2 separate regions of the Homo sapiens genome follow, and region 2 is linked to region 1. Evidence: fine-mapped expression QTL. Tissue or cell type: whole blood. Region 1 holds a variant in brackets; the other region holds the start of a gene. All regions are shown on one strand. Distances are from middle to middle.

What was found. PIP is the estimated chance that this variant, and not a neighbour inherited with it, causes the effect.
Region 2: it holds the start of STX10, and the variant in region 1 is fine-mapped to the expression of STX10 in whole blood (INTERVAL, PIP 0.93).

What each region holds. Positions count from the first base shown.
Region 1 is chr19:13,110,267-13,120,557 of GRCh38, reverse strand. TRMT1 (tRNA methyltransferase 1) reads left to right here and starts at 3,818. Exons shown (of 17, transcript NM_001136035.4): 1 at 3,818-3,905; 2 at 4,127-4,412; 3 at 4,506-4,561; 4 at 4,790-4,932; 5 at 5,092-5,279; 6 at 7,547-7,662; 7 at 7,741-7,853; 8 at 10,252-10,291. The coding sequence starts at 4,159. It overlaps NACC1 (nucleus accumbens associated 1), which reads right to left and starts at 2,294. Exons shown (of 6, transcript NM_052876.4): 1 at 2,104-2,294. RefSeq lists enhancers at 247-747, 748-1,249, 2,525-2,674, 3,635-3,824 and silencers at 1,685-1,734, 2,285-2,484. The variant G/T (reference allele first, on the strand shown) is at 4,472.
Region 2 is chr19:13,144,644-13,152,288 of GRCh38, reverse strand. STX10 (syntaxin 10) reads left to right here and starts at 1,914. Exons shown (of 8, transcript NM_003765.3): 1 at 1,914-2,150; 2 at 2,392-2,561; 3 at 2,696-2,790; 4 at 3,198-3,260; 5 at 6,894-7,001; 6 at 7,419-7,525; 7 at 7,618-7,645. The coding sequence starts at 2,116. IER2 (immediate early response 2) reads right to left here and starts at 1,878. Exons shown (of 2, transcript NM_004907.3): 1 at 1,737-1,878. RefSeq lists silencers at 244-603, 2,154-2,313, 2,354-2,403 and enhancers at 1,744-1,813, 1,834-2,033.

The DNA of each region.
Region 1 (10,291 bases):
GGGCAGGGCCCAGGTTGGAGGGTGTCCTGGGAACTATAGGGAGACTGGGGAGAATTAGGGTGACAACCCATCATTAAACCCAGAACTGGCTGACACCACTTGACCCAGCAGTTTGTGGCTCCTGCCTCAGGTGCTGAAGATCCCAAATCAAAGTCCCAAGGACACCCTGGTAACAGCCTTGCAATTAGCCCAGAAAGGAACAAAAGCTGCTGCCATCCGACTGGGGGCCAAAGTGGGGCAAAAACAGTCTAGGCAAGCAAAGTCAAGTCCAGCCCTGGTGGTGCCAGGCCTCCTCAGCTTCCCACGGTCAGCCCACAGTTCCATGACTCCTGACCTCTTGGCTCCCAGGAGGGAAATGGGGAAGAAGGGGTGACCAGGCCTCCGAGAAAGATACCTCCACTGTTCCATTCCCCGGGGACACCATGGAAACTCAGTCTGTCCCAAAGGGGATTGACCCATCCCCCGGGGTGAGCAGAAGGGAAGGCCTGGACGGAGGAGAACGCCCGCCAGGGAATCCAGAACGAGGAGCTCCTTCAGTCACCCTCCTGGAAGGCCACTTGAGTGACTATGGGTTTGGGCTGAGGGTCAGACAATCCCAGTTCAGCCACTGTCTGCTCATGTGATCTGAGACAAGCCACACCACCCCGAGCCTCAGCTTCCTCGTCTGGACCCCAGAGAAGGCCTAAGTTGAACTGGTGGTGGTGAGCCATCAATGAGCTCATCCGACCAGCGAGCTCGGCACAGGGCCTGGCCCAGGACGAGTGTCCCAGAGGTAGATCCCTGGGCCAGGGTGTGAGTGCCTGATTTGATCCCCTTAACTCTTCTCTGTGCCCTGCCTTCACCCCGTCGGGAGCCTCCAAACCACCATCAACAGAGTTTTACATGCTCATTCCCTCTAATTCTTCACCCCCAGGGAGATGGCACACAGAACTCAGGCTCAAGGAGTTGGTGCCTGGGAGGCCATGGTACTAATATATACGATGGTTGCTGTGAGGTCCCATCCACTAGGCTTGAACCACCAGCTTCTGGCCACAAAAGGTAGAGAAAGAATGCAGGATCCTAAAATACCCAGGTAACGTCTGCTGGGCTGCCTCCCTGTAGATATATAAGGTGGGGGTGGGCAAGGGCCACCTTGTGATAAACAAGATGCCTAAGCTAGGTGTTCCAGACTGTCTCCAGCTGCCCACACAAACACCCACTGGCCAGTGCCTTTGAACAGTTGGCAGAGGCTTGCCCAAGGGGTAGGGTCAGGACTCTAGAGGCTTCAGGGATGAGGTGTGAGAAAGACGGAACCCCTTAACACTTGAGTTGGGGGCGGTGGGGGGCGCATCTTAGTATATACCTTCTGGTCACACCAGCTTTTCCTGACCTGCCCCCACATCCCCCCTAGCCTAGCCCAAAAGGCTCTGCTCTCTCGACTCCCAAAACTCCTACAGCAGTCCCTCACCTTACCTGATCGCCCCCACATCTAGCCTCCCCCTCCCCACATCTGAGTCCTGACCTCATGTGACCCCCGGAAAACATCTCTGGGATCTCCTATCCGCCCCCACACGAAGTAACTCCGCCCACACCCGCCGTGCCCCACTTCCTGGGCTTCTCCTCAGCCGCCCCCAGGCCTGTAACTTGACCCACCCACCTCCTCCAGCGCCCAGGCGGTACCTGCAGGCCCGGCCCCTCCCCGCCCCCCTCCGGCCGCGCCGCTCTCCTCTCCTCCCCCACTCGGCCTGGCCGGAGCCCGACTCCTCCTCCCCCTCCCCCTCCCCCTCCGGCATCCACGAGAACCTCCTCACTTTTCCGCCTCGGACCCTCCAACTTCCCCGGATCCCCGGTACCTGCCCCGGCCCGACCTGGCCCCCTCCCTCGCTGGGAGACGGGGGAGCGGTCCAGGTACGATCCTGCCGCCCCCAAGCCCTGAAGCTCGGGCTGGACGCTCAAGGCCGCCCGCGGTAGCTGGGCCTCCACACACTCGCCTGCCCGGGCACAGTGCAGGCTGCGGGCCCGGCTCCTCCTCGGTCCGAGAAAGCACCCAGGCCCTCCCCACTCAGCCCTCGGGCCGCCCCGGCTGGAGGAGGCCGGAACCGGGCCTGAGGCGGGCCGCCTCACCTGCGCCGTGGCCGCGCTCCGGGGGGTCCCGGCGGGCTCCGCAGCGGCGGCTGGGGCCGGGCCTGGGCCCGGGGCGCGCCCCGCTGCGCCGGGGCCTCGGCCTCCGCCTCCGCGGCCTCCGCGGCCTCCGCCTCAGCAGCAGCGGCAGCCGCGGCGGCCATTCATTGTGGGCCAGGCCGCCCCAGCCGAGCGCCGAGCGAGCGCAAGCCGCGCTGCCGCCGCAGCCAGGCCAGGGAGGAGCGGCCCCGGCCCCGCCCGCGCACCGCCCTCGGGCCCCGCCCTCCAGGCGAGGCCAGCCGAGCTCCGAGCGCGCCCCTTCTAACCGGCTCCGTCTCCTCTCTATGCCCCTGGGGGATCCTCGCCAGTACGTCGGCTCAGCTCGATGGTTCGAATCCTGGCCCCGCCACCTTCTAGTCCCGCGACCTTGGGCAAGTCGCTCTACCTTTCCGAACTTTAGTTTCCTGTAAAACAAAAACAATAATGACTGCTGTTTATTGTGGCAGGCACTGCGTTACATTCTTTATGGGAATTAGCTCGTTTAAACTACACAGTAACATTTTTTAGTGAGAACTGCTACAGACACACTATAGAAAATAAAGGCAGCTGGGCGCGGTGTCTCACGCCTGTAATCCCAGCACTTTGGGAGACCGAGGTGGGTGGATCGCCTGAGGTCAGGAGTTCGAAACCAGCCTGGCCAATATGGTGAAACTCTGTCTCTACTAAAAATACAAAAATTAGCCGGGCGTGATGGCATGCGCTTGTAATCCCAGCTACTCGGGAGACTGAGGCAGAAGAATCGCTTGCACCCGGGAGGCGGTGGTTGCAGTGAGCCGAGATCATGCCACTGCACTCCAGCCTGGGCGAGACTCCGTCTCAAAAAAAAAAAAAAAAGAAAGAAAGAAAGAAAAGGAGGCACAGAGAAATGAAGAAAGCTGGTCAAGATCATCACACAGCAAGGAAGTGATGGTAGGTGCCAGGATTTAAACACAGGCTCAAAAGCGACAATAAGACCTAAGACTTTTATGATGCTTACCGGATGCTAGGTTCTGTTAGCATTTTACCTGCACTAACTCGTTTACTTCTCACTACAACCCAGTAACAAATGGTAAAAAAAAGTTCTGCCCATTTTGCAAAAGCGGTAACTTAAGTTCAGAGTTAACAAGTCGCAGGGCGAGCTGAGACTGGAACCCAGGTAGCCGGGACCACTTCGCTGTCCTGCCTTCATACACTGGTTAGAACTTTACCGAGCGCTTACAATGTTAGAGTGGTTCTTTGCACACTTTCCAGGAATCTGTCATTTAATCTTTGCTCTATCTGAGAAACCACGATTCTCATTTAATAGGTAAGAAAAGTGAAGCCGCGGGAGTAACCTGCCCAGAGCATGTGATGGGACTGAGATTCAAACCCGGTAAATCCAACTCCAGAGCCTGAGTCATTCCTGCAGGGTGCTCTGAAATAATGTGTATATAGCACCCAGAACACAGAAGAGGACCAATAAGTGTTGGGTTTCTCCGCTTACCGCCCCTTTTCTGAGCCACAACTTCCTCATCTGTGAAATGGGACTAGGGACGTGTCCTCTCCCAGGGGATCCACTGTGATTAACACCCCCGGAACAGCACGATCAGCGCGCTTCCTTTATGGCTTTCATTTTGATCCCGGCCGCCCACCGTACGTTTCCTCATTGACTGGCCAACCACTATCATGTGATTCGCCCACCCACTGTGCCAACATGGCGGCGCCCAGGTCCTAATTCGGGAAACGTGCACCTTGACTAATTCGGTTTTCTGTGGCTACGAGAGCAGGTGAGGACGGGCTAGGCAGCGCGGGGAGGGATTCGGACTCGGGGCGGGCCTGCACGAGGGCATCGGCTCCACAGGGACCAGTCATCCCCAAAACGAGGGGATATCAGCTTACCGAGGCCGCAGGTTTTCCTAGTCCCTACCTCATAGATATGTAGGACATCCCCGGGCCCGGAATGCGGCTCTCTGACCCTCTCTGTGCCCTCCCCCGCCCCCCGAACCAGGCTTGGCGGGCGGAGGCGCCAGCGGATGTCTCATGCAAGGATCGTCTCTGTGGCTAAGCCTCACTTTCCGCTCCGCCCGGGTGCTCTCTAGAGCCCGGTTTTTCGAGTGGCAGTCTCCAGGGCTGCCGAATACAGCAGCGATGGAGAACGGCACCGGGCCCTACGGAGAAGAACGTCCACGTGAAGTCCAGGAGACGACAGTCACCGAGGGGGCTGCCAAAATCGCCTTTCCCAGTGCCAACGAGGTCTTTTATAACCCGGTGCAGGAATTCAATCGGGACCTGACGTGAGCAGGGGTCAGACGTTAGCCTGGCATCGGCTAGTGGGTCAGTGTGGATGGCGGGG[G/T]CGGGGTATGAGCTAGTCCTCTGTCTCCCACCAGATGTGCTGTGATCACCGAGTTTGCTCGCATTCAGCTTGGGGCCAAAGGAATCCAGAGTGAGTGGAGGTCCAGGCTTCTGGTGGGCGGGGGTCACACAAGTTTATCTCCCTGCCTGGGCTCTTCTGCCGCCCAAATCCAGAGGGGCTTCAGCCACATAGCAGGCCCTGGGTTCTGCTCCTTCAGCCTTTCCGCAGGGATTTCAGGGACGATATTTTGGAGATTAAGGGGAGGTTTCTCAGAGGGGACCTTGTTATTCTCTGACTTGTGCCTCTGGGTGGCTGCAGTCAAGGTTCCAGGAGAGAAGGACACGCAAAAAGTGGTCGTGGACTTGTCAGAGCAAGAGGAGGAAAAGGTTGAACTGAAAGAGAGTGAAAACCTGGCCTCAGGAGACCAACCTCGCACAGCGGCCGTGGGGGAGATCTGTGAGGTGGGGCCTGAGCATAGGAGCTGGCAGCCCTGGAATTTAGCGGGAGACAGAGGGCTCCTGGAGGGGGAGAGCTATAGGAGGTGGGTGGTGGGGGCTCCTTGGGGCCCAGAAGAGGATGGAGGTGGAGATGTGAGGGAGGTTTTCTGCTTACTCCAACAGGAAGGCCTGCATGTGCTGGAAGGCCTGGCAGCTTCAGGCCTACGTTCCATTCGATTTGCCCTAGAGGTGCCTGGGCTCAGATCTGTGGTTGCAAACGATGCCTCCACCCGGGCTGTGGATCTCATACGCCGGAATGTCCAGCTCAATGACGTGGCCCACCTGGTACAGCCGAGCCAAGCAGATGCCCGGTAGGTTCTGGGCATCACAGCCTAGCTCTGGGACAAGCCTGCCTGGGGTCAAATTCTGGCTCTGTCACATTCTCACTCTGTGACCTTGAGTGAGTGACTTAGCCTCTTTGAGCCCCAGTTTCCTTGTCTGTCAACTGAGAAAATTAGTTTTACAGGGGTTGCTGTGATGAGTAATAGATAATTATGGTATGATCCATACTCTGTGCCAGAAATAAGTAGCATCCTGGTCTCTGTTTTAACTTCTTACACTCCTTTTATTCATTCAAATGAGCCATAGTATATCCAGTGTCTGCTATGTGTCAGGCACCGTTTTCAAGAACTGGAAATGCATCAGGAAACAAAACATGCAAAATTGGTGACCTTCGCAAGAGTTGGCAAACTATAGCCTGTGGGGCTCACAGCCTTTTTTTGTTTGTTTGCTTGTTTGTTTGTTTTTTGAGATGTAGTCTCGCCCTTGTTGCCCAGGCTGGAGTGCAGTGGCACGATCTCAGCTCATTGCAACCTCCGCCTCCCGGGTTCAAGCCATTCCCCTGCCTCAGCCTCCCGAGTAGCTGGGATTACAGGCACGTGCCACCACGCCTGGCTAATTTTTATTTTTATTTATTTATTTATTTTTTGACACGGAGTCTCGCTCTGTTGCCCAGGCTAGAGTGCACTAGCGTGATCTTGGCTCACTGCAACCTCCGCCTCCCAGGTTCAAGTGATTCTCCTGCCTTAGCCTCCCGACTGAGTAGCTGGGACTACAGACATCTGCTACCACACCCACCTGTATTTATAGTAGAGATGGGGTTTCACCATGGTGGCCAGGATGGTCTCGATTTCCTGACCTCGTGATCTGCCCGCCTCGGCCTCCCAAAGTGGTGGGATTATAGGCATGAGCCACTGCACCTGGCTATGCCAGGCTAATTTTTATATTTTTAGTAGAGACAGGGTTTTGCCATGTTGGCCAGGCTAGTCTCAAACTCCTGACCTCAAGTGATCTGCCCACCTCGGCCTTCCAAAGTGCTGGGATTACAGACGTGAGCCACTGCGCCCGGCCTAGCCTAGTTTATCAATGGCCCACAACCCAAGAATGTTTTTTACATTTTTAAAGGTTAAAAAAGAAGACTATGCAGTAGGGACCACATATGACTCACAAAGCCTAAAATACCTTCTGACCTTTTACAGAGAAAAAAGTTTTTACTTTTCTGACCTTACTAGAATCCAAATAGTAATCACAGACAATGAAAAGTAATTAGCTGGGCATGGTGACTCATGCCTGTAATCAAGCATTTTGAGAGGCCAAGGCAGGAGGATCGCTTGAGGCCAGGATTTCAAGACCAGCCTAGGCAACACAGTGAAACCCGTCTCTACAAAAATTTTAAAATGAGGTCAGACGCAGTGGCTCACCCCTGTAATCCCAGCACTTTGGAAGGCCGAGGTGGGCGGATCACTTGAGGTCAGGAGCTCGAGACCAGCCTGGCCAACATGGTAAAACCTCGTCTCTACTAAAAATATAAAAATTAGCCAGGCATGGTGGCACGTGCCTGTAATCCCAGCTACTTGGGAAGCTGAGGCAGGAGAATCGCTTGAACCCAGGAGGTGGAAGTTGCAGTGCGCCGAGAACCCACCACTGCACTCCAGCCTGGGTGACACAGCGAGACTCTGTCTCCAAAGAAAGGAAAAAAAAAATGTGTTAATACATCTATAAACTGCTTGAAATGGTGTCAGGCAGATACGTCTTATATCAGTATTGTTGTTGTTTTAGATGTGTGGACTGAGTTCCACATGGTGCTTTTCCTAAGTAGGAAAATTGTGCAGTTTAATAAATGACCAAGGCCAGTGCAGTGGCTCACACTTGTAATCTCAGCACTTTGGGAGGCCGAGGTGGATGGATCACTTGAGGTCAGGAGTTTGAGACCAGCCTGGCCAACATGTTGAAACCCCATCTCTACTAAAAATACAAAAATTAGCTGGGCGTGGTGGCACATGTCTGTAGTCCCAGCTACTCTACTCGGGAGGCTGAGGCGCGAGAATTGCTTGAACTGGGGAAGCGGAGGTTGCAGGGAGCCGAGATCACAACACTGCACTCCAGCTGGCTGACAGAGCAAGACTCCGACTCAAAAATAAAATAAATAAATAAATAAATGACTGAGCCAGGACTTGAACTTGGGAATCTGGCCCCGGAGTTCAGACCCAAACCACTGTGCTGTACGAGTTAATATGTGTAGGGGACAGAGAAGGTACCTGGCGTGGGAGGCTGAGGACCTGGCCCTCTTTGCACCCAGGATGCTGATGTACCAGCACCAGAGGGTGTCGGAGAGGTTTGACGTCATCGATCTGGACCCCTATGGCAGCCCAGCCACCTTCCTGGATGCAGCTGTGCAGGCTGTGAGTGAAGGAGGTGAGGTGGGGATGGCACTGGGGTGGGAGCAGGGCTTGGGGTGTTGGAGGGTTCTCACTGCCCAGCCCCTCTCTGCAGGGTTGCTGTGTGTGACCTGCACAGACATGGCGGTGTTGGCGGGGAACAGCGGGGAGACGTGCTACAGCAAGTACGGGGCCATGGCCCTCAAGAGCCGGGCCTGCCACGAGATGGTGAGGGGCCCTCTGCCAGCCAGCCAGGGAGACCGGGGGACAGGTGGTTGTCTGAGTCCCTTCCCAATACACTTTCCCCCTCCTCAGACCTGCTCAGCTTCCTCCAGGCTGATGGCCAGATGCATCCCAGGCTGTTAACGACAGGCGTGTCTTCAACCCACATAGTTCCTAAGAGCATGGCTGATAATCATGGTCATTTGGGGACAGTGGCTTTGGCCAGGACAGGAGTGCATGGCCACATTATTTTAGTTTTCTGTATTAAAACAACTTTTCAAAAAAAAATTTTTTTTTTAAAGGTCGTTTTTCCAGGACTGGGTTTAAATCCTAGCTTTGCTGGTAGCTCTGGGCAAGTGACTTCACCTTTCTGGTCCTCGGGTTTTTTTGCATCTGTAAAATGGGCACAATGATGGTCTGAAGGCCGGGCGCAGTGGCTCACACCTGTAATCCCAGCACTTTGGGAGGCCTAGGCAGGTGGATCACCTGAGGTCAGGACTTTGAGACCAGCTGGCCAACATGGTAAAACCCCATCTCTACTAAAAATACAAAAATTAGCCAGGCATGGTGGCAGATACCTGTAATCCCGGCTACTCAGGAGGCTGAGGCAGGAGAATCACTTGAACCCAGGAGGCGAGGTTGCAGTGAGCCAAGATCACTCCGCTGCACGCCAGCCTGGGAGGGAGACCCCATCTCAAAAAGAAAAAAAATAGGCCGGGCGTGGTAGCTCACGCCTGTAATCCCAGCACTTTGGGAAGTCGAGGTGGGCGGATCATGAGGTCAGGAGATTGAGACCATCCTGGCTAACATGGTGAAATCTGATCTCCACTAAACATACAAAAACTTAGCCAGGCATGGTAGCGGGCACCTGTAGTCCCAGCTGTTCGGGAGGCGGAGGCAGGAGAATGGCGTGAACCCAGGAGGTGGAGCTTGCAGTGAGCTGAGACTGTGCCACTGCACTCCAGCCTGGGCGACAGAGCAAGACTCTGTCTCAAAAAAAAGAAAAAAAAATAGGCCGGGCGCGGTGGCTCACGCCTGTAATCCCAGCACTCTGGGAGGCCGAGGTGGGCGGTGTTCAAGAGGTCAGGTGTTCAAGAGCACCCTGGCCAACATGGTGAAACCCCGTCTCTACTAAAAATACAAAAAAAAAAAAAAAAAAATTAGCTGGGCGTGGTGGTGGGTGCTTGTAATCCCAGCTATTCGGGAGGCTGAGGCAGGAGAATCACTTGAACCCGGGAGGTGGAGGTTGCGGTGAGCCGAGATGGCACCATTGCACTCCAGCCTGGGCAACAAGAGCAAAACTCTGTCTCAAAAAAAAAAAAAAAAAATGGTCTGACCCTATTGAGTGTCTGATCAGGATTCAAGAAGGCTGAGTGGCGAAGTGCAGCGGCTCATGCCTGTAATCCTAGCACTTTCGGAGGCCAAGGTGGGAGGATCACTTGAGGTCAGGAACCTGGGCAACATAGCGAGGACCCCATCTCTACAAAAAAACCCTAAAAATTACCTAGGTGTGGTGGTGGATGCCTGTGGTCCCAGCTACTCTGGAGGCTGAGGCAGGAGGATCACTTGAGCCTAGGAGTTCAAAGTTATTGTGAGCTTTGATAGTGCCACTGCACTCCAGCGTGGTCCACAGAGGGCTCTTGCCCTTGTTCCTAAAGGGTCCTGTCATGAAGTCAGCCCGGGAAATGCTGTCTCCTTTCCCATATCAGAGTCTCACACTAGCAGGAAAGCCCTAGCCGTTTTGCTTTTTTTTCTTTTTTGAGATGGAGTTTCACTCTTGTTGCCCAGGCTGGAGTGCAGTGGTGAGATCTCAGCTAACTGCAACCTTCGCCTCCCAGGTTCAAGTGATTCTCCTGCCTCGGCCTCCCTAGTAGCTGGGATTACAGGCGCCCGCCACCACACCCAGCTAATTTTTTGTATTTTTAGTAGAGACGGGGATTTCATCATGTTAGCCAGGCTGGTCTCAAACTCCTGACCAGCCTCCCAAAGTGCTGGGATTACAGGCATGAGCCACCACGCCCGGCCCAGGCCCCAGCAGTTCTACAGCACCTAGTATCCCCACTTCCTGCCCACAGAGCCCTTGGGGGCTGGAACGTGGGTCCTCAGTACATGCCACATGGCACACCGATAATGCTGGTCAGAATAGGTTGGATCTATGCTTTCCTCACTCGTTTAGTGCCCCCAGCAGTGCCACAGACAGGGACTGTTGTGATTTTGCAGATGAAGAAACTGAGGCACAGAGAGGGGATACTCACTTGTTGAGGGTCCCACAGCCAGGACTTTCAGGGGTGGGCTTGGATCCCAGGGAGCTGGCCCTGAGCCTGTACTTGTGAGTACCACATAGGGCTCCTGGTGGGGTGGGTGGATAGTGGAGGGGAGGCTGACACCCACCCCCCACCCCCAGGCCCTGAGAATCGTCCTGCACAGCCTGGACCTCCGCGCCA
Region 2 (7,645 bases), 33 kb before region 1:
CGGGTGGGTTCAGAGCTCGCACGGCTGCGAACCCGGCGCGCACGACAGTCCCCGTGAACACGTGGCTGCCGCCCCCCAAACAAGGGGGCCGAGTTCCGTCTCCGCGTTCGGGGAGGCGGGGTTAGGTTGGGAGCTGGAAACCCAGCAATGCAGAGACAGAGCAGATAGAAAATCTCCGCCCTACCCTCCGCTACGCGCCGTCTCTCCAAGAAATACTAATTCCACTTCCTCCAAAAATAGGATGCAGAATTGTTCGAATGGCTCCATTCATTCCTGGTGCGGGCCCTTTAAGGGGTGGTGCGCCCCCCGCCCCCTTTCCGCCCGCACTGGCTCGCGGCGCCTTCCCGCCACCAGCGCCCGCTGACTTCCACAACTAAATTTGGACGGAGTGACGTAGGGCAGTCGCGCGGGCCGCTTCCGGTTGCCCATATTAGGACAGGGCCCGTGATCGCCTTAGCGGCCGGCGGCGGGGCTTCCGGGGGGGGGGCGCGGAGGGGCGGGGCTTTGCGCTCCGGCCACGCCCCTCCCCATCCCCGACCCGGGCAGCCGGAGCAGGCTGGAGCCCCAGGCTTCCTGACTCGCATTCCAGCCGGGTGGGGGAAGAGGAGAGTTTCACTTCCTTCCCTCCAGGGGCCAGGAAGGCGTGACGCCAGGAAAGCACCCCGCAGCGGGTAGGGGCGACCTGAGGGCTCCCAGGGACGCCATCTCCCAGAGACGCTGCAGAACGACCCTGCATACACAGGAGACGACCCGCTGAGGCCCCCTTCATCCCATCTCTCCTCTTCCCAATTATTTCCCCCATACAAGGCCCCCTCCCAGGTTATTCCTGACCCCTGCCCCACACTGATCTTCTCAGGCCTTGGGACACCCTCCCGTCCCGCCCTTCCCCCGCACGCTGGGAACTCAAAAGTTATTCCCCCCTAAAATACCCTTCCCAAACTCGTCCCCATTCAACGATGGTGCCAGACTGCGACGACCTGCCGAAGACGCAGGCCGTCCCCACCCCGCTAACCTTACCACGGAGACCCCACAATGATTTCCCCAGCCCAGGCGCTATCTCTGAGACCCCACGCAGCAACTCTGACGCGCAAGGGGGCGACCCTCCGAGGACTCCCTCAGATAACCCGCCCACCCTCCAGGGGAGACCAGGCCCCCTATCACTCAAAAAAAGTGCTTTCCCGAAGCTCCCCAACACACAGCGCCACTGTCACACATAGGGACGACCCTGAGTCCCTCCGCTGATATTCCTGGCCCCTACCCAGACGGAGACCCCACACACAGAGGGCCCCCCTGGAGACCATCCTCAAAGCCACCACCCGCTACCCCCAGGCTCGCACCCAGAAAGACTCCGCGCTTCTGAAGAAACCCACCTCCACGCACTTTCTCAAAGGTGACCTCCCCCCGCTGCTGGCATATCTGGGACCCCCTCACGACCACCTCGCCCCAAGGCGACCTCGAAGTGCCCCCAACTCCGCCACTTCTCAGGAAAGAGATTGGGAGAATGCGGCAGAACTCCCCGGAGGAGCAGGCCCGCTCCTCACCGCGCCCCCGCAGGGAGAAGGGAGGACCACCTCTCCCCCAGACCCTAGCCAAACCTGACACTCGGGACCCTGGGATGGGACGATCTCCCAGGTGCCAGCTCAGGGAGTCCATGAAAAGCTTCAACGAATCGAATGAGCCCCTTCCCCAGCCATAATACCCAGCCGCCAGAGATGAGGGAGGCTATCATTATTTACATTGCCCGTGCCTGGAAGGGAAACTGAAGTTGCGCAGGAACAATCCGAGGAACTGGGCCTTGAACCGAAATTCCGAACTCGGACCCGAATAGGCCCAGACAGAACTCCGACACCGCCCCCTACGGTGCGGCACGAGAGGGCTAAGGGGCGGGGGCATGTGCACCGGAAGCTGCCTCTGCCCACAACCAAGATGGCTGAGGAGAGGGCGGAAGTGTCCGCACGTCGGGCCTCCGAGGCTTCTCTTTCTCCCCTGGCGGTCCGGCTCTCGATGGTGGCGTGACGGGGGCGGGGGTGGCGGCGCGTTCTCCTCGGTTGGGAGGGAACCAGCCCGCGAACCCAGGCCGGGAGGGGGGTTCGGCCTGGGGGGGAAGGGACTGACATGTCTCTCGAAGACCCCTTTTTTGTAGTCCGAGGGTGAGTGACAACGACGGGGGAGGGCGGAGGGTGCTCTGTACCCAAGCCAGCCAGTGCCCGGGTGCCGGCCCCAGCGTGCCCGGCGGGCTGGGCAAGGCCGTCGGGGTGCAGAGTGGGAGGCGCACGCAGGGGTATATAGGGGTCTCCGGAGTCCCCCATGCGTTTGGGTTTGCAGTCGGGGGCAGAGGCAGGCGGGAGGACCGCCTGCCCCCAGCCGCGCCCGCCGTGCCCCTGCCCGCAGCGAGGTGCAGAAGGCGGTGAACACGGCCCGCGGGCTGTACCAGCGCTGGTGCGAGCTCCTGCAGGAAAGCGCGGCGGTCGGACGCGAGGAGCTGGACTGGACGACCAATGAGCTGCGGAATGGCCTGCGCAGCATCGAGTGGGACCTCGAGGACCTGGAAGAGACCATCGATATCCTGGGGCTTTGTGGCAGAGGGTGGCATGGGAGAGCCCATTGCGGTGGCAGCCCACCTTCGGGTAGGGCTGGACCCCTAGGGACGGGGATGATATCTGGCTCCGGCCTTGACCCTTGACTCTCAGCCCACGTATAGTGGAAGCCAACCCAGGCAAGTTCAAGCTCCCAGCCGGGGACCTGCAGGAGAGAAAGGTGTTCGTGGAGCGGATGCGAGAGGCAGTCCAGGTCAGGAAAGGTCCTGCAGGCGGGGAGTGGGGGAAGGTTTGAGTGTGTTTTTTTTTCTTTCTTTCTTTCTTTTTTTTTTTTTTTTTTGAGACAGAGCCTCGCTCTGTCGCCCAGGCTGGAGTACAGTGTTGCAATCTCGGCTCACTGCAACCTCCGCCTCCCAGGCTCAAGCGATTCTTGTGTCTCAGTCTCCTGAGTAGCTGGGACTACAGGTGCCTGCCACGATACCCGGCTAAGTTTTGTGTTTTTAGTAGAGACGGGGTTTCACCATGTTGATCAGGCTGGTCTCGAACTCCTGACCTCAGGTGATCCACCCGGCTTGGTCTCTCAAAGTGCTAGGATTACAGGCGTGAGCCACCGCGCCCAGCCTGAGTGTCTTTCCTCCCTAATGCTGTCCTTACCTCCAGGAAATGAAGGACCATATGGTCAGCCCAACAGCCGTAGCATTTTTGGAGAGGAATAACAGAGAGGTAAGCCTTCCTGACCCACCCTGCCCACCTGAGCCCCTGGGGGTAACCAAGCCAGATCCCTCTGTGCGTGTTCACCTGTCCCTTTTGCGACAGTGCCCGTCCTCTCTGTGGGCAGTTATCTTCTTGCTGTCTACCTGCCTGCACTTTCTCGGTGTGTGCACCTGAACCTCTCTATGTGTATATGTCCGTGGGTTCCTCTCTACTGTGTCCTCTGGGTCTATACTGGTTTCCTGTTGCAGGAGAGGGCTGGGGGCCTGTGTACCTATCTCCTTTCTGCTTCCATGCCATTTGTCCTGTGTGCACCTGTTTCCAGGACGCATGCCTGCCTTTTACTCTTTTTTTTTTCTTTGAGACAGAGTCTTGTTCTGTTGCCCAGGCTGGAGTGCAGTGGCTTGATCTCAGCTCACTGCAACCTCTGCCTCCTGGGTTCAAGCGATTCTCCTGCCTCAGCCTCCCAAGTAGCTGGGATTACAGGTGCTCGTCACCATGCCAGGGTAACTTCTGTATTTTTTTTTTTTTTTTTTTGAGATGGAGTTTCACTCTTGTTGCCCAGGCTGGAGTGCAATGGTGCAATCTCGGCTCACCGCAATCTCCGCCTCCTGGGTTCAAACAATTCTCCTGCCTCAGCCTCCCGAGTAGCTGGGATTATAGGCATACGCCACCATGCCTGGCTAATTTTGTATTTTTAGTAGAGACGGGGTTTCTCCATGTTGGTCAGGCTGATCTTGAACTCCCAACCTCAGGTGATCCACCTGCCTCAGCCTCCCAAAGTGCTGGAATTACAGGCATGAGCCACTGCGCCTGGCCTAATTTTTGTATTTTTAATAGGGTTTTGTCATGTTGGTCAGTCTGGTCTCAAACCCCTCACATCAACTGATCTGCCTGCCTCAGCCTTCCAAAGTGCTGGGATTACAGGCGTGAGCCATCGCACATAACTTCCTTTTTTTTTTTTTTTTTTTTTTTTTTGAGATGCAGTCTCACTCTGTTGCCAGGCTGGAGTGCAGTGGCGCAGTCTCGGCTCACTGCAACCTCCGCCTCCTGGGCTCAACGATTCTCCAGCCTCAGCCTCCTGAGTAGCTGTAATACAGGCACATGCCACCACACCCGGCTAATTTTTTTTTTTTTTTTTTTTTTTGAGACGGAGTGTTGCTCTGTCGCCCAGGCTGGAGTGCAGTGACGTGATCTCGGCTCACTGCAGCCTCCGCCTCCCGGGTTCAAGCAATTCTGTCTCAGCCTCCCGAGTAGCTGGGATTACAGGCACCCACCACCATGCGTGGCTAAATTTTGTATTTCTAGTAGAGACGGGGCTTCAACATCTTGGCCAGGCTGGTCTTGAACTCTTGACCTCGTGATCCACCTGCCTCGGCCTCCCAAAGTGCTGGGATTACAGGTGTGAGCCACCACGCCCGGCCAATTTTTGTATTTTTAGTAGAGACGGAGTTTCATCATGTTGGCCAGGATGGTCTTGATCTCCTGACCTTGTGATCCACTAGCTTCAGCCTCCCAAAATGCTGAGATTACAGGCGTGAGCCACCGCGCCCGGCCAGCTTCCTTTTTTTTTTTTGAGATGGAGTCTTGGCATGTTGCCCAGGCTGGGGTGCAGTGGTGCAATCTTGACTCACTGAAACCTCCACCTTCCGGGTTCAAGCAATTCTCCTGCCTCAGCCTCCTGGGTAGCTGGGACAACAGGAGTGTGCCACCATGCCCAGCTAATTTTTGTGTTTTTAGTAGAGACAGGGTTTCCCCATGTTGGCCAGGCTGGTCTCAAACTCCCTACCTCAGGTGATCCGCCCCCGCCTTTTCATCTGTGCATGCACCTAACCTATTTGGGTGCGTGCACTTGGCCTCTGAGTGTATCTGCATTTTCCCCCCTCATATCCTAATATCTGCTAGTTTCCTCTGTAATGTGCCTGCCGTGTGTGTGTGTGTGTGTGTGTGTGTGTGTGTGTTTCTGTGTTTCTCCCAACCACCTCTGTCAGTCCACTTTTTCTCTTGGTGTTCTCTGTTGATATTTTTCATATGTTGAGAACCACCAGCCTTTCTCTCTCCCTCATAAGCGTACGTGGGGTCGGGGAGGGTGGGGGACTGAGGCTCCTCCCAGTTTGTCATCCCATAGCAGTGCCCACGTGCCTTCCAGATGTGCTGCCTTGGGGGAATTCAAGTCCAAACTCTAAAATACATCTGTTGGAGCCGGGCACGGTGGCTCACACCTAAAATCTCAGCACTTTGGGAGGCCCAGGCAAGTGGATCACCTGAGGTCAGGCGTTCGAGACCAGCCTGGCCAACATGATGAAACCCTGTCTCTACAAAAAATACAAAAATTAGCCAGGCGTGGTGGTGATCACCTGTAATCTCAGATACTTGGGAAGCTGAGGCAGGAGAATTGCTTGAACCCGGGAGGTGGAGGTTGCAGTGAGGCGAGATCACACCACTGCACTCCAGCCTAGGTGACAGAGCAAGACTCTGTCTCAGACAAACAAACAAACATCTGTTGGGCCAGGCATGGTAGCTCACGCCTGTAATCCCAGCACTTTGGGAGGCTGAGGCAGGTGGATCACTTGAGGTCAGGAGTTCGAGACCAGCCTGGCCAACATGGGGAAACCCTATCACTAGTAAAAATACAAAAATTAGCTGGATGTGGTGGCAGGTGCCTGTAATCCCAGCTAAAATCCCCCCAAAAATAAACAAATAGTAAAATGTGACATTTACTAGCATTACTATGTGTTGGGCACTGCTGTAAGTGTCCCCCATCAATTAATTCTTTAAATCCTCATTTCAACCCAGGAAACACGGATTCTAGCTCTTCCCATTTTATTTTATTTTTTTTTTTTTTGAGGCAAGGTCACTCTGACACCCAGGCTGGAAATGCAGTGGTGCGATCTCAGCTCACTGCAACCACCGCCCCCCAGGTTCAAGCGATTCTGCTGCCTTAGCCTCACAAGTAGCTGGGATTACAGGCATGCACTGCCACACCCGGTAATTTTTTTTTTTTTTTTTTTTTTTGAGAGAAGGTCTTAACCTGTCACCCAGGCTGGAGTGCAGTGGTGTGATCTCGGCTCACTGCAACCTCAGCCTCCCAGGTTCAAGTGATTCTGACCTGCCTCAGCCTCCCTAGTAGCTGGGATTACAGGCACCCGCCACCAAGCCTGGCTAATTTTTGTATTTTTAGTAGAGACGGGATTTCACCATGTTGGCCAGGCTGCTCTCAAACTCTTGACCTCGTGATCCATCTACCTCGGCCTCCCAAAGTGCTGGGATTACAGGTGTGAGCCACTGTGCCCGGCCCAATTTTTGTATTTTTAGTAGAGATGGGGTTTCACCATGTTGGCCAGGCTGGTCTCGAGCTCCTGACCTCAAGTTATCTGCCCACCTCCACCTCCCAGAGTGCTGGGATTACAAGCATGAGCTACCATGCCCCATCCTGCTCTCTGCATTTTACAGATGAGGAAACTGAGGCACAAGGAAGCCAAATGATGGGGTCTCTGGGTCACCTTGCTAGTAAGTGGTGAGTGGGGAATGCAGGCTGTCCTGCCCCAGAGTCTGCCCCCCTGACTTACCACCGTGGGGATTTGCCCCACAGGCCCCGCTGTGAGTTGGGGTCTCTCCCTGAGCCTATGTTGTGTGCCCCTGCAGATACTCGCAGGCAAGCCAGCTGCCCAGAAGTCACCCAGCGACCTGCTGGATGCCAGCGCAGTCTCGGCCACATCTCGCTACATCGAGGAGCAGCAGGCCACACAGCAGGTTTTGGGGCCAGCGGGGTGGATCTTGGGAGGGGAGAGCCTTGCAGACTGATCTGAGGTCTGGGGTCCCTTTTTGTTGTTGTTGTTGTTGATATGGAGTTTCGCTTTGTCGCCCAGGCTGGAGTGCAGTGGCGCGATCTCAGCTCACTGCAACCTCCGCCTCCCAGGTTCCAGTGATTCTCCTGCCTCAGCCTCCCTAGTAGCTGGGATTACAGGCGCCCACCACAATGCCTGGCCAATTTTTATATTTTTAGTAGAGATGGGGTTTCACCATGTTGGCCAGGCTGGTCTCGAACTCCTGGCCTCAAGTGATCCGCCTGTCTCGGCCTCCCAGAGTGCTGGGATTACAGTCATAAGCCATAGCGCCTGGCCTTCTGGGGTCGTTTTCAACAGCATCTCCCACCCCTTCGCTCTGCAGCTGATCATGGATGAACAGGATCAACAGCTGGAGATGGTGTCTGGGAGCATCCAGGTTCTGAAGCACATGTCCGGCCGCGTTGGAGAAGAGCTGGACGAGCAGGGCATGTGAGGCCAGGACCCTGGGGGTGGGCCAGGGGCTCTCGGCCACCCTGGTGTGTCTGGGCCATCTGGGGCTGATGCCATCCTGTTCTTGGCAGCATGCTGGATGCCTTCGCCCAAGAGATG